Linked DNA regions of Homo sapiens. The protein of the gene in region 1 purifies or fractionates together with the protein of each later gene. This does not show direct contact. Each region holds a gene or a part of one and is shown in the gene's direction. Other genes may lie near its edges.

Evidence for each region. The genes of interacting proteins can lie anywhere in the genome.
Region 2: the proteins of ARHGDIB (region 1) and NAMPT fractionate together in Homo sapiens (co-fractionation; one large-scale study listed by BioGRID). This does not show direct contact.
Region 3: the proteins of ARHGDIB (region 1) and OARD1 fractionate together in Homo sapiens (co-fractionation; one large-scale study listed by BioGRID). This does not show direct contact.
Region 4: the proteins of ARHGDIB (region 1) and ITIH3 fractionate together in Homo sapiens (co-fractionation; one large-scale study listed by BioGRID). This does not show direct contact.

Annotation. Positions count from the first base shown.
Region 1 is NC_000012.12:14,955,102-14,958,601, reverse strand, and holds part of ARHGDIB (rho GDP-dissociation inhibitor 2), read left to right. Parts: intron 1-2,268; exon of another isoform or gene 2,269-2,426; intron 2,427-3,500. UniProt on the Homo sapiens protein: Regulates the GDP/GTP exchange reaction of the Rho proteins by inhibiting the dissociation of GDP from them, and the subsequent binding of GTP to them. Regulates reorganization of the actin cytoskeleton mediated by Rho family members.
Region 2 is NC_000007.14:106,282,184-106,286,366, reverse strand, and holds the start of NAMPT (nicotinamide phosphoribosyltransferase precursor), read left to right. Parts: upstream 1-1,383; 5' UTR 1,384-1,482; coding exon 1,483-1,539; intron 1,540-4,183.
Region 3 is NC_000006.12:41,064,272-41,066,814, reverse strand, and holds the end of OARD1 (ADP-ribose glycohydrolase OARD1), read left to right. Parts: 3' UTR 1-2,043; downstream 2,044-2,543. UniProt on the Homo sapiens protein: ADP-ribose glycohydrolase that hydrolyzes ADP-ribose and acts on different substrates, such as proteins ADP-ribosylated on glutamate and O-acetyl-ADP-D-ribose.
Region 4 is NC_000003.12:52,804,796-52,807,046, forward strand, and holds part of ITIH3 (inter-alpha-trypsin inhibitor heavy chain H3 isoform 4 preproprotein), read left to right. Parts: intron 1-466; coding exon of another isoform or gene 467-577; intron 578-1,012; coding exon 1,013-1,045; intron 1,046-1,307; coding exon 1,308-1,343; intron 1,344-1,497; coding exon 1,498-1,611; intron 1,612-2,105; coding exon 2,106-2,251. UniProt on the Homo sapiens protein: May act as a carrier of hyaluronan in serum or as a binding protein between hyaluronan and other matrix protein, including those on cell surfaces in tissues to regulate the localization, synthesis and degradation of hyaluronan which are essential to cells undergoing biological processes.

The DNA of each region.
Region 1 (3,500 bases):
TAATATTTGTGAAGGTACTTGGTGGCATGACTTCACACGTTGGGCACTCAGCAAAGCTCACGGGATCTCTTTGAGTTCTCTCTCTTTGTGCATATGAATGTGGGTTAGAAAAACACACTAAAAAATGCACAGGCAAGAAATAATAAATTGTTTCTCTCACAAAGACAAATGGTAAGAAATTACGTTTCTAGTAATTTGTGCCCTTCTCTGGATTGATTACAATATTTATTGTCTCTTACAAAATAATCTTGTCTTTGGTTTTTCTCATCCAGTTTTGAAGTTTTCGTAGTCCTTCATGGGGCTGAGGTGGTAGAAAGCAGCACCGCAAAGTGGGGAGTATGGATTCCTCCATGTCACCAGGGACAGGGGCGGTGGGGAGAGGGTGGAATCCCGAACCAAGAAGGCTTCTGGTGTCCTGAGAGACAAATTTGCAATCCCGTAATACACCAAATTGCCAGGCAAGCAGCACAGCACATTCAAATCCTTGACTAGCTCTGAAATGTCAACAGTGTTTTAGAGATGGCCTGACTCTCCAGACCTGCACTAGACCCACAGCCCGATTTGGGGGAAGTCAGACATATCCTAGTCAGCAGGGAAAGTGGAGGTAGCAGGAGTTACAGAGAATGCTGATGCTCACATAGGAACTTCTCTGATAGAAATCCCCTACTTCTGGTATTTCCACTTTTCTCTCTCTCTTCCCTCTCTCTCTTTCTCCCTTCTCCCTCCTCTCTCTCTCCTCTTTCTCTCTCCCTCTTTCCCCTCTTCCTTCTCTCTCTCTCATCGCTATCTCTTCTACCTAATACATTAATATCCATGGCCTGTGTGTCTAGATGCATAATCCAGCACAATTTTGCAGATCCAGCTTTGGGCCGTGAGTTAAGTCTCTGTGGTATTTTGCTCCAGAGCCAGAGGGAATTCTCTTCATTAGCTGTGCCTGTGTTCACTGACATTTCTCATCATTCGCAGAGTGACCTCTGGCTTCAATGAAGACAGGGAGCAATAAATAAAACCTAAAATTAAATTGTTTACATGAAAGTTTTTAAAAGAAATATAATATAGTCTCATTTTAAGGTTGATTCAGTTTTTAAACAATCCTTTCAATTCCCCAGAACTTCTTATCTCTTTAATACTCCTCAAAGACAAAAATCTATTTTTAAGGAGGAAGGAGTGGGGACATAGCTCCCATCCAGGGGAAAGTATTTGGTGTGGAAACAGTTACCTAGCTTCAGTGAAGCTTTGCAACAAAGCAGACCACACTGGGGCAGGGAAGGAAGAAGAGGAAGGGAACAAATATTCACGGAACATCTATTCTTGACCAGTATAGTCCTATAATTTTTCATGTGTTTTCTCCAATCTTTCAACCCCGTAAAAAAGAATATCCCCATTTTAGTGGTGATAAAACTGAGGCTCAGTGAAATTAGCAACTTGATTGAGTCCTGTCATAATGCAGAGCCTGGTTTTGAATCCCTGGTCCATCTGACTCAATCTATGTTCTATGAGACATGAAAGTCACCTTTCTCTGAATTACCCAGGTAATTTGTTTAATCTAAACTCAGGAGTTCTACCTTTTCTTGTCCTCAGTTCATTTAGAGCTGCATTAATGAAACAGATGATGCTCTATCCTGACATGGGTGTAAATTTTTAAGTGTAATTCACTTTCAAAGTCTTGGAAATTTCACTGAATTTGCAAGCAAAAACATTGATGTGTGCTATGTCATATGCATGCTGTGAGTAACCATCCTAATTTAATTCGACATTTTAATTGAGCCTGAGAAGATTAAGTCCCCATCTCAGCACATCTAATGCTTGCCAGTGCTTTGCTGAGTAGCAAACATGAGGATGTGAGGCCTCCAATGTGAAAGTTAATCTGTATGCGCATCTGTGAAGCAGAAAATACAGAAAACTAGAGTAGCAAGCCTGTGTGAAAAAATGATATGTGCTTTGGGGCCTAATAAATGGGGTCCACATTAACCTGGTTAAACATATAACTGTTCATTCTCCATTTCATTTTTCCTGTGCAAAGGACCAAAGTCAAAAATAAGCAAAACTCAGCTCTGCCCTTTGTAGAATAGGGGATGAGCAGCTGAGGAAGGTGAGGAAAGCCCATCCAGAAGATTCTATGCTGATGGGCTGAGTCCTCCCCAATCTCCCTTTTACTTCCTCTTTTCTTTTCTCATTTCACAAGCTTCTTTAAATTAGGGAGCATTTGAGTCATTAAATTAAGAAGGGGCCTCAGAGATCCTCTCATGCCACGGCTTCTTTTTGCAGAGGATGAAACTGGGGCCCAGTGAGGTTAAGCAACTTGCAGGAGGTAACGCAGGAACCGAGTTGCGCTGAAACATCGTTATCTGACACTTCCCTGCTTTGTTAAAGCTGTCTCTGCAGAGCTTGCAAAGAAGCATTTACCTCTGCTTGTGCACCTCCAGGTAGATTCCCAAGATGACTAACAAACTCTAATTTTATTATAACTTCTTAAAGATGACTGAAGCAATAAAGCATAGTGCCTAAAAGTCAGACAACCTGGGCGCAGACATTAATTCTGCCTACCACGTGGTATGTCTTCTTAGGCAAGTTACTTAACGTGAACTTTAGTTTCCTGGTCTGGAAAAGAGAATGATGATGCCAACAAAGTTACTGTAAGAACTAAATGAGATAATCCTCTAGAAAGCACTTAGCACTACATGTGATAACTATTATAATTTGTATTAATAATATCAATATTATCAATAGGAAAATCAGTTGTCCTTTAGATGATGGGATTGGAAAACAGTCTGTAGAATTTTCATAAAATTCCTATTCTCATTTCAACACACATCCATAAAATAGGAGGATAAAAAGAGAAAATTGTTGTTTGTGGTTAAATATGCACACAGATAATTTGAGAAATCATTGTCAAACTGTATATGCCATTTATGGCTGGGGCTTCGGGAGAAACTGAGGTTACCCAGAAATAACGTTAAAAATGCAGTACAATGCTTAATAATATTGTATTGTACTTGAGTTTTGCTGAAGAGTAGATTTTAGGTGCTCTTGCCACACACAAAAAAAAGTGGGTGAGATGATGGATATGTTAATTTGCTTGACTATAGTAACCTTTTCACTATCTATGTATCCCAGACATATTTTACATCTTAAATATATACAATAAATACTTTTTAAGAAATTGATTCATAGGAGGTATTTATGTATTCCCGATATCAATCTCTTGTTAATACATGCATTGCGAATGTCTCATTTTTAGAATCCAGACCATTACTCTTTTCACTGTCTATAGGGTGATATTAGGAAAGGAATTTTAAATGCTTGTGTAATTGAAATATTTAATATTTTCTTCTATGTCTTAGTTTTTGCACTTGTAAAATGTAATTGTGCCTACCTCACAACATTGCGATGACTGAATGAAATAATGCATGCCAAGCACTTATCCCGTACTAACTGAGTTTTTGGCTCACAAGTGTTCAGTAACAATTTGCTATTACTATTATGGTACCCTTTATTAT
Region 2 (4,183 bases), on another chromosome or scaffold:
GATGAGGTGATTGTCAAAAATATATACTGACTTCAAGACATAGTGTTGACTGAGGTTGTCTTTATTAGAAGTCTCAGCCATGCCTCCAGTTTCGAGATGAATCTCAATTCACAAGTTCCACTATGAATCTCAATTCACAAGTTCCACTACCACCACCACCATCACTGCCCCCAGATAGAATGAGACTTCTAATAACTTGAAAGACAAGTCTATAAATATCCTGTAATCGTTTTCACTGTATCACTTTTTCCTGGCTACTTTTATCCGATAAAAACCTCAATTTATTTTTAAGCTATTAAACATGCGGACAAAGGGAATCTTAGTTTTATGCAAAAACGCAACCACGCATGAGAACTGCGCAAGTCTTTCTTGGAATGGTCTGTATTTGGGTGAAGTCATCAGACGTCATTACACTTCTTTATTTTGGGGTTGCCAACTCGTTTCCCAGGATTTAAAGACTATAACGATGATAAAAGTCAGTGTCGCACCCTGTCAAAGGCTTGGCCCGTTGCCTTTTCCTTCCCGGCAATACTCGGTTCAATTAGGTCTTGTCCCCTCATTATCTGTGAGGACTGAATTCCACCCCCGCTTTTCAACGCAGGCTCTTTGCTCGGGAAAAGTCAAACCATCTCTCAAAGGATCAAAGAGCTCAGCCATAGACAGAGCCGCCGGAGGAAAGCGGAGTCGCTGCATCAGATGAAAGGGGCCCCTCAGCCTCACTCCTCACCGCAGCTCCTGGGATCTTAAAGACAGGGTCAGGAGGATCAGGAGGGACAAGAGGGATGGAGGCGAAAGGCTGGATCCTTAATCCAGGCCGGAGACAAAGGTGAGTAACTGCGCGTGGTGGACGGGAAGATGGGCAGTAGGAGGCTCCTCGCCCCCTAGCCGGGTGGCGTGACTTCAGGAGGACCCAGAAAACCGGCCAGGACTGGGTAGGACGGAAGGTCCCAGGCGGGGCGGGCGAACCGGCTCCTCGTGGCACTGGCAAAGCTGGGAACGCCCCCTCCAGGCCCCGCCCTCCCGCGCCCGTGCCGGGAACTCGAACTTAGGTAAGCGCCCGGGTCACGCGCCGGGGCTGCCCCGCTGCCTCCAGCTTCCCAGAGCTGGCGTCTGGGAGGAAGAGCGCGTGCATCACGTCCTCCTCCCCGCCCCGCCTCCGCGCACTGCGCAGCGCGCTGCCGCGCCCCGCCCTTTCTCGGCCCCCGGAGGGTGACGGGGTGAAGGCGGGGGAACCGAGGTGGGGAGTCCGCCAGAGCTCCCAGACTGCGAGCACGCGAGCCGCCGCAGCCGTCACCCGCGCCGCGTCACGGCTCCCGGGCCCGCCCTCCTCTGACCCCTCCCCTCTCTCCGTTTCCCCCTCTCCCCCTCCTCCGCCGACCGAGCAGTGACTTAAGCAACGGAGCGCGGTGAAGCTCATTTTTCTCCTTCCTCGCAGCCGCGCCAGGGAGCTCGCGGCGCGCGGCCCCTGTCCTCCGGCCCGAGATGAATCCTGCGGCAGAAGCCGAGTTCAACATCCTCCTGGCCACCGACTCCTACAAGGTAAAGCTCGGGGCCCGGGCAGATGAGGAGGAGCGGGGCGCGCTGGGGACGAGCGCGCGGCAGGGGGGCGGGGGCGGCTGGGGCTGGGGTTGGGGCTGGGGCTGGGGCTAGGGTCGCGGCGCGGGGAGGCCCGGGGGAGGCGCGGGCGGCGGCGGCTGGGGCAGGTGAGGAGGCGCCGCAGTGGGCAGGAGGTGGCTTGAGGAGGATGGAGGGCTGGGCGGTGGAGGCGGGGCCTGGGGGCGCGCGGCGGCGGCGGCGCGGCGGGGGGCTGAGGCGGGCCCCAGCGGACTCCCGGGCGCCGGTGCTCGGGGCTCGGGGCTCGGGGCTTGGGCGTCGCCGGCGAGCGCATGCCCTTCCCTGAAGCGCGGCCTCTTGGCCTGGAGCTGGGACCAGTTAGGTAACGGCCCCGGGGACCCGCAGTGGAGAGTGAGCGGGGCTTTCCCCCGGGCCAGCCCGGCGCGCTCGCCCCTGGCTGGGCAGGTAAGTCTCCCGGGGCGCGAGGTGGGAGAAGTCCTGGCGCGGGCGCCGGAGCAGCCGCGGTCCTCTGCGGCTCCGGCGCGGAGGACACTCGCCTGGCCCCGGTAGCCGTAGTGGATTCCCCTGTCCCACTCCGCCGGGCTCCGTTTCAAACTCCTTGGCACCTAGTGATTGCTCGTGCTCCTTATCCCTGGGTGTAGAGGCCGCTCTGCTCTTATCTGCTTTAGGGTCATTACAGGATTTCTGTGAAAAGGAAAATGAAACACGAGGATTTAAAGGAACTGTAGTTTTAACCCTAGAGAACATGTGGAGAGGGAAATGGCACAGCGTTGCGTTCACATGCCCATTGAACACTTGTGTGGGTAGCTGCCACATTCAGTTGATATGAAGCACGCAGTAGTGAAGGGAAGAGGTAAAGTAAATTTTACTTGAGCAGCATAGTGGTTTGGAATACAGTGGTAAAACATAGTACTCTCATGTTTTTGTTTTGATTCTTTTTTTTTCCTTTGTTTTTAGCCCTCCTCCGATATTCCGAGAAAGTATTTTAGAGAATTCCATTTTACTTAAGTTTTGTCTGTTTTTTTCCAATCAGCTTAAAATGCTGTTTATGATATTTAGATAGGTTCTTGAAATCGAGCCAAGATCCATCAACAAGTTGTCTTTTAGATGCAAGTTTAAAGTATTGCAAAATCCGAACACTATCAAGTATGATTCTTGAATATTGTCAAGTATACGTGATAATACCTCAAGTATGGTCCTTTACTTGGTCCTAAAACCTCCTCTTGTGTTCTCTTGGTTCAATCATAGTGTTTTCAAAATTTTAAATAGTGATTTTAGAATAGCCTCATTGATAGTTTTGTAGAATTTTTTTCTTAACTAAATCTAAAATAACTGTCAGATTTTTTTTTTACATGTTAGCCAAATGTAAAGGGAGGTTGAATAGTCTAAATTTTAAAAACAGAAGAATGCAACTTCCTTTAGTTTGCAGTTCCTCTAACCATTATACATAAGGAATGTAAAATTACTTTAACATCAGTTTTCTGGGGTGCTTTTAGTTAGAATAGTGAATTATCTTAAAGGTTTCTAATCTAGTGAGCCATACTTAATTGCACTATTAGAATTTGCACCTATTTAATAAATTTTACTTCTGTCAACTTTCAAGTCAGACTGGTGTGTTTTATATCCTTTATAATATGAAACTTCAGAATATTTTCATCTTAGATTTTTCATTTTTTCCCCAAAAGTCACCTCTAGAGGGTTCAATCAAGTCGATATGTTTTATACCAGTGGCTTACCGCAGTATGCTAAAATAGATTGTGTATTCCACAGTCACATTTAAGTCTTAGGTTTCATTTCCCTTATGTTTTTAGGGGTCCTTATAACCTATTTTACATTTTTGTCTTTTTATCTTAGGAAAAAGGACAAAAATGATAATCTTGAGGTTAGAAGTAATGAAACTTATTTAGAAATTACACGAGAATGTTACATATCCTTATCAGTGCTTACAAACTATTGGCCAAAGTTGGGAACTCTAGTAGTTTCAGATGTGTTGATGAAGAGAGCAAAATATTGTTGATTTCTTCTTTCTAAAACTGAAGAAAGAATAATTGATTGCCTAAGCACTACGAAAGTTATTTTGCAAGTAGATGGTATGGTAGCAAGCACATGACAATGGGAGTTTTGTTTTGTCTTGTATCCTGTCAAGAGAGTCCAGAACTATTTGGACCAAAGGAGCATTTGAAGTATATACATTCACTTCTGTAAACTCATACTTTATTGTATATAGTAAGGAATTAAGGACACTGACGACTGTGGTTCCTCTATTTTCATCGTGGTTCTTGTTAGAAGTAAGGACACCGTTTAAACCGCATTATCCATTAGTTATGAAATGTGCTGTCCGGTGTAGGTTGCTTCTCAAAGGGTCATCTGTAAGCTGGTTATCTAGAATTCAGCATATTTTTAACCATTCATTTAATAAATGTTGGTGACCTATTGGGTATTATAAAAGAAGACAAAGATAAGTAGTATTTTGAAATCCAGGAGGGACAGAAGTTGATTTTATAGAAGTTTCAAAGAGCTGTGAAATTTATATATGGTGATTAGGAATTCAAGGCAGCTTTTTTTCAAAAAAAAAGAAAATTTTGCTTCCTCTAATGGCCAAGTAACA
Region 3 (2,543 bases), on another chromosome or scaffold:
AAAAATAAAAATTTGGGGAGTTAGTGAGGTTCTGTGCTTATGTCTATTTGTTCTGGACATGGGTAATGGAGGGTTCACCTGCAACTTAATTTCAAACAGTCAGACAAAGGGTCCAAGCGGGAGGAGAAGCAAAGTGAGAAATAAGAGATAAAAATAGACAAGTCAAAAGGCAGGTTTTTAGAATCTCCTCATGGTGAACTTTTTCTCTCTTTTGTCCACTGCATGGTTTCTGTGATTGAACCTGCCTGAATTTAATCATGAAAACAAGTGAAATAATGTATGTTAAATGCCTGGCAGAGTACTTAGCACAGACTAGTGACCCAATAAATCAGTGATTGTCAAAAATCCTTATGAGTCTTCTTTAAAAAAATAAAGGCCACTTCCTCTCAAAAAATTCTCATACCTGTCATCTCAGCACTTTGAGAGGCTGAGACTGGAGGATGACTTGAGCCCAGGAGTTTGAGACAAACCTGGTTAACATAGCGAGACCCTGTCTCTACAAAAAAAAAAGAAATTAAAAATTAGCTGGGCCTGGTGGTGCAGGCCTGTAGTTCCAGCTACTCTAGAGGTTGAGGCGGGAGGATGGCTTGAGCCTGGGAGGTTGAAGTTGCATTGAGCTGTGATTGTGCCACTGCACTCCAGTGTGGGCAACAGAGCAAGACCCTATCTCAATTAAAAAAAAAAATTTGGTGGTGGAGTGGGATGGCCACTTTTGTGTTTTTAACCTCCATAGAAGATTTGGATGTGCAGCCAGCTGGGGTCTAAATATTAGTCCTCTTTTCTTCCGAAGCTGCAAAGACCAGTCGTCTATTGTGGTCATGGTAGGAAAATAAAGTTCATGGATTTAGCCAATGGTTCAGTATCAGAGCTATTCGGGAAACTAGACATTTTCTTGTTTTCCCTTACAGTGGTGTTGAGAGTTAAAACAGCCAGACTTGCTATTGATTTTCTCCCTAGAGTGACTTTGGGTCTGTCACAGGACTTGCTGCTTTCCCAAGTATAAAAGAACAACTGTATTTTAGAAGGGGCTGGTTAAAACACCAGGAAAGTACTGGTTAAATATAATCTTTGTACTTTAGACTGTGTTCTTATCACATATCAGCCTGATAAGAGGCAACAGTTTCAAAAAAGTATTTCACTTTTGTATTTCTAGGTGGAACAGACAAGTTCTTCATGTTGTTGGGGTAGGGGCAGTGGAGGGTCAAGTTCATTATCAAACTTTTAGATTGAGGCTTTTCTTGAAGCATTGCTTTTGTCCACATAAAGTTGAAGGGAAAAAGGAAGGAGAGATTATCTAAATACACAAAATTGAAAGTGAGAGTGGGGGATAAGAAACTTAAAGAAACTTAAAATATTTTGCTTAACTCTGCAATTACAGATGCTCCTCAACTTAGGTCTATGTCTGGGTAACCCCATCTTAAGTTGAGTTCAGTTGAAGGGTGTACTGAATGTGTATGGCTTTTGCACCGTTGTAAAGTCCAAAAATTGCAAGACAAACCATTGTAAATTGAGTACCATCTGTAAACCTTAACACAAGTCAAAACATGGATTTTCTAGGCTTCCTTTACTTTTAAAGAGATTATGGTTATTATTATTATTTTTTTCTTGGCGTTTGAGCCTTGATTCTTTAGACAAAACCTAGTCTCATTCAGGATTGGCTGTAAGTGGAATTCTGGGACTTAGCAGGAATGTGATAAAGCACTTTGTCATTTGCCGATAGTAGTCTTGGGTCAAATTCCGACGACTTATCACACTTGAAGCCTGAGGAAAGGAGGCATGCCCTGGTAATCAGAGTGAACACATTATTCCTGGAAACCTAGTTAGAGTTTGGCAAACACCCGGAAATTCACCTGTGAATTTTTGCTTCCACATAGGACTCAAACAAACCTTTAAAAAAAAAAAAAGAGAGACTTGACATCATCCTGCCATTACCATCAAACACCATGTATTGAATACTTTTAAATGATTGTATATCTGAACATTAAACTACTACTTTTCACCCGCTCCTCTCTAATAAAGAAGCTAGTTGCTTATTAACTGGCATTTGGGATGTGGCTACCTTAGATTTCTCATGCTTTTTGTTCCACCTTCTGCCCTATTACTTGCCTTCAGAGAAGGGAAAGGCCCTCACTTGATTGTCGTAAGAAGTCTGTATGGGAGAGTTATTCTGCATTGTCTAGGCAAGTCTTGGTTTAACCATGGCTTGGTTCATAGCCTGGAGTGTCCCTGTGTCTGGACTAGCTCGCTTGTCTGTGGCAACTTCCAGATGTTCAAGTTTCTTAAAAATCTGGCCACGGGAAAAACACACCACTTCTTTTATTAATGTTGCTGTTTTTCTTTTTTTAAAAAAATACCCAACTTAACATAAAATGCATATTTCAGAAATCTAAACCTCGGGTCTGAGGCTGTTTGTGTTAAGCAGCCCCCTTGGGTGAGCAATTAGGACCTTCAGTCCCATAGTTGACTGGAGCCCATGTATGGTTGCATTTCTCTCCTTGCAGGTCACTTTCGTCCTTCCCGAGAGCAGCATTAGAGAGAGAGTC
Region 4 (2,251 bases), on another chromosome or scaffold:
AGGCCTTTCCAAGCAAGATAGGACCCCCAGCCATGGGGGCACACTTGGGACACCTGGGCTCAGGCCCAGCCCTATTGCCAAATCATGAACGTGCCCCTCTCTGAGCCTGAGGATCCCTGTGAGTTAATTGGGGGTGGCTTCCCTTGCCCAGGGAGACACAATCAGTATGACAGTATCTATGACCTGCAAAAATGAGCAATTTAGCATGTCAGTCATTTATACTTCATTAGTCCCATAGCAACCCTCCAAGAGGGCCCTTTTATGATCCCCATTTTACAATGGGGAAATTGAGGCACGGGGGGTTAATTTGCTCAGTCTGTTTGCTCACAGACTCAGCAGATGGCCAAGCTGGTACTTAGGCCAAGGCAGTCTGGCCCCAATGCCCATGCTGGGAATTGCTGGGGATCACAGTCCTCTGTGCCTCTCTCACCACAAAACTGGAACCTCACAAACTCCCTGCCACTAGGCAGGGCCTCCCCAGCCCCTACTGGCCTGCCCCACCTCCATTTGGACTGGCACATTTGGACTGGGCCATCACATTCCCCTCAGAACAGCCCTGATAAATGTACCGGTGCATGTGAGTACATATATGCATGTGCACGCATATGTGTGCGCCTGTGTGCACGTGTGGGTGGGTGTTTACTATCAAGAAGCAACAGACAGCCGTGAGCCTCACTCACCCCAACTAGGGGGTGGGAAGCCCAGGGGTGGGGCAGATGTTTGCTGTGAGCATTACTCAAGAGAGAGAAGATGACTTAATGGCTTGCATTTCAGCCACATCAAAAAGCCCTGCGCCAACGTTAAAATCACATCCCATTGCCACCAGCCCCATAAAGGGCTTCCCTGGACGTGCCCGATTTCCAAAGCCTAATCTTTGTAGTCACATCTCCACCTCTATCTGCCAGTGTTGGGGCCCCTCTGGGGCCCAGCAGCGCTAAGACAGGAGGAAGGCACGGGGCTGGGGGAGAAGGAACCCCTAGACCCTGCTCACCACTGCCCTTCGGCTTTTCAGCCACACCGGTGAGCCCCGCCATGTCCTACCTGAGTGAGTACATGCTGGCAGCTGCCACTCCTCCCACTGCTTAGAGCCTGCCCCTGCCACATGTCCCTCCACCGTGGCTACTCACTCAGCTCTCCGGGATGGGCAGATGGACAATGTGCCCTGAGGAGATTGCGGGGTGGGAGGGCAATGGCATTAGCGAGCGGGAAGGGGAGGGGAGGGGCATAAGCTGAACTCCTATGGGGGTCGTCGGGCGCCTCCCAGGGCCACTTGCTTAGCTCAGCCCTCTCTCCCTTTGTATCTGCAGCCAGCTACCAGCCTCCTCAAAACCCCTACTACTATGGTGAGTCCCTGGCTGCTCCTCGGGAAGGCTCAGGGGCCTGGGCACGTGCTCCTGCCTGTCTCGGAGTCGAGCCCATGGAGGCCAGAAGGCTGGGGGAGGCCCCAGGTATGATGAGAGGCCCCGGGAGTCAGCTCCTTCTCTAATGTGTCACCAGTGGACGGGGATCCCCACTTCATCATCCAAATTCCGGAGAAAGACGATGCCCTCTGCTTCAACATCGATGAAGCCCCAGGCACAGTGCTGCGCCTTATTCAGGATGCAGTCACAGGTGAGGCTTGTGGGCTAGGGCCGGGGCCAGGGGGCTCTTCCTGGGAGGGCTTGGGTCCCCCGAGGTAGGCACAGGGAACAGGTTCTCACTCTGCCCAGTAAGGCATCATCTTCACATGCAAAGAAACCCCTGGGGGTGGGGAGTGCCCAGGGCCACAGGCTTGCTCAGCCCCACATGCCAGTGCTATTGGGAGATGATTAGCGTGAATGGACCACCTGGGCCTAGGGTAGGACCCAGCCTGTGTCTGGGGAATAGCTTTTCTCTGAACAACACTCCCTGGCCCAGGCAAGTGGCAGACCCATAAGGTCCCAGCATGACCCAAACCTAGAGTGTCTAGGAACCAACAGGCTTGGGCTCTGAAGTCCTGGTCTCTCTTGTGGCCCCCGCTCTGCTGCCCCTCAGCCAGTCTGGTTGAAGAGGAAGGCACACCCCTAAAGGCAATCTGGACTCAGAAGTTCTCGCTGGTCTCTCTCCCTGCCCCATCCCTCTGGCAGGCCTCACAGTTAATGGGCAGATCACTGGCGACAAGAGAGGCAGCCCTGACTCCAAGACCAGAAAGACTTACTTTGGAAAACTGGGCATCGCCAATGCTCAGATGGACTTCCAGGTGGAGGTGACAACGGAGAAGATCACCCTGTGG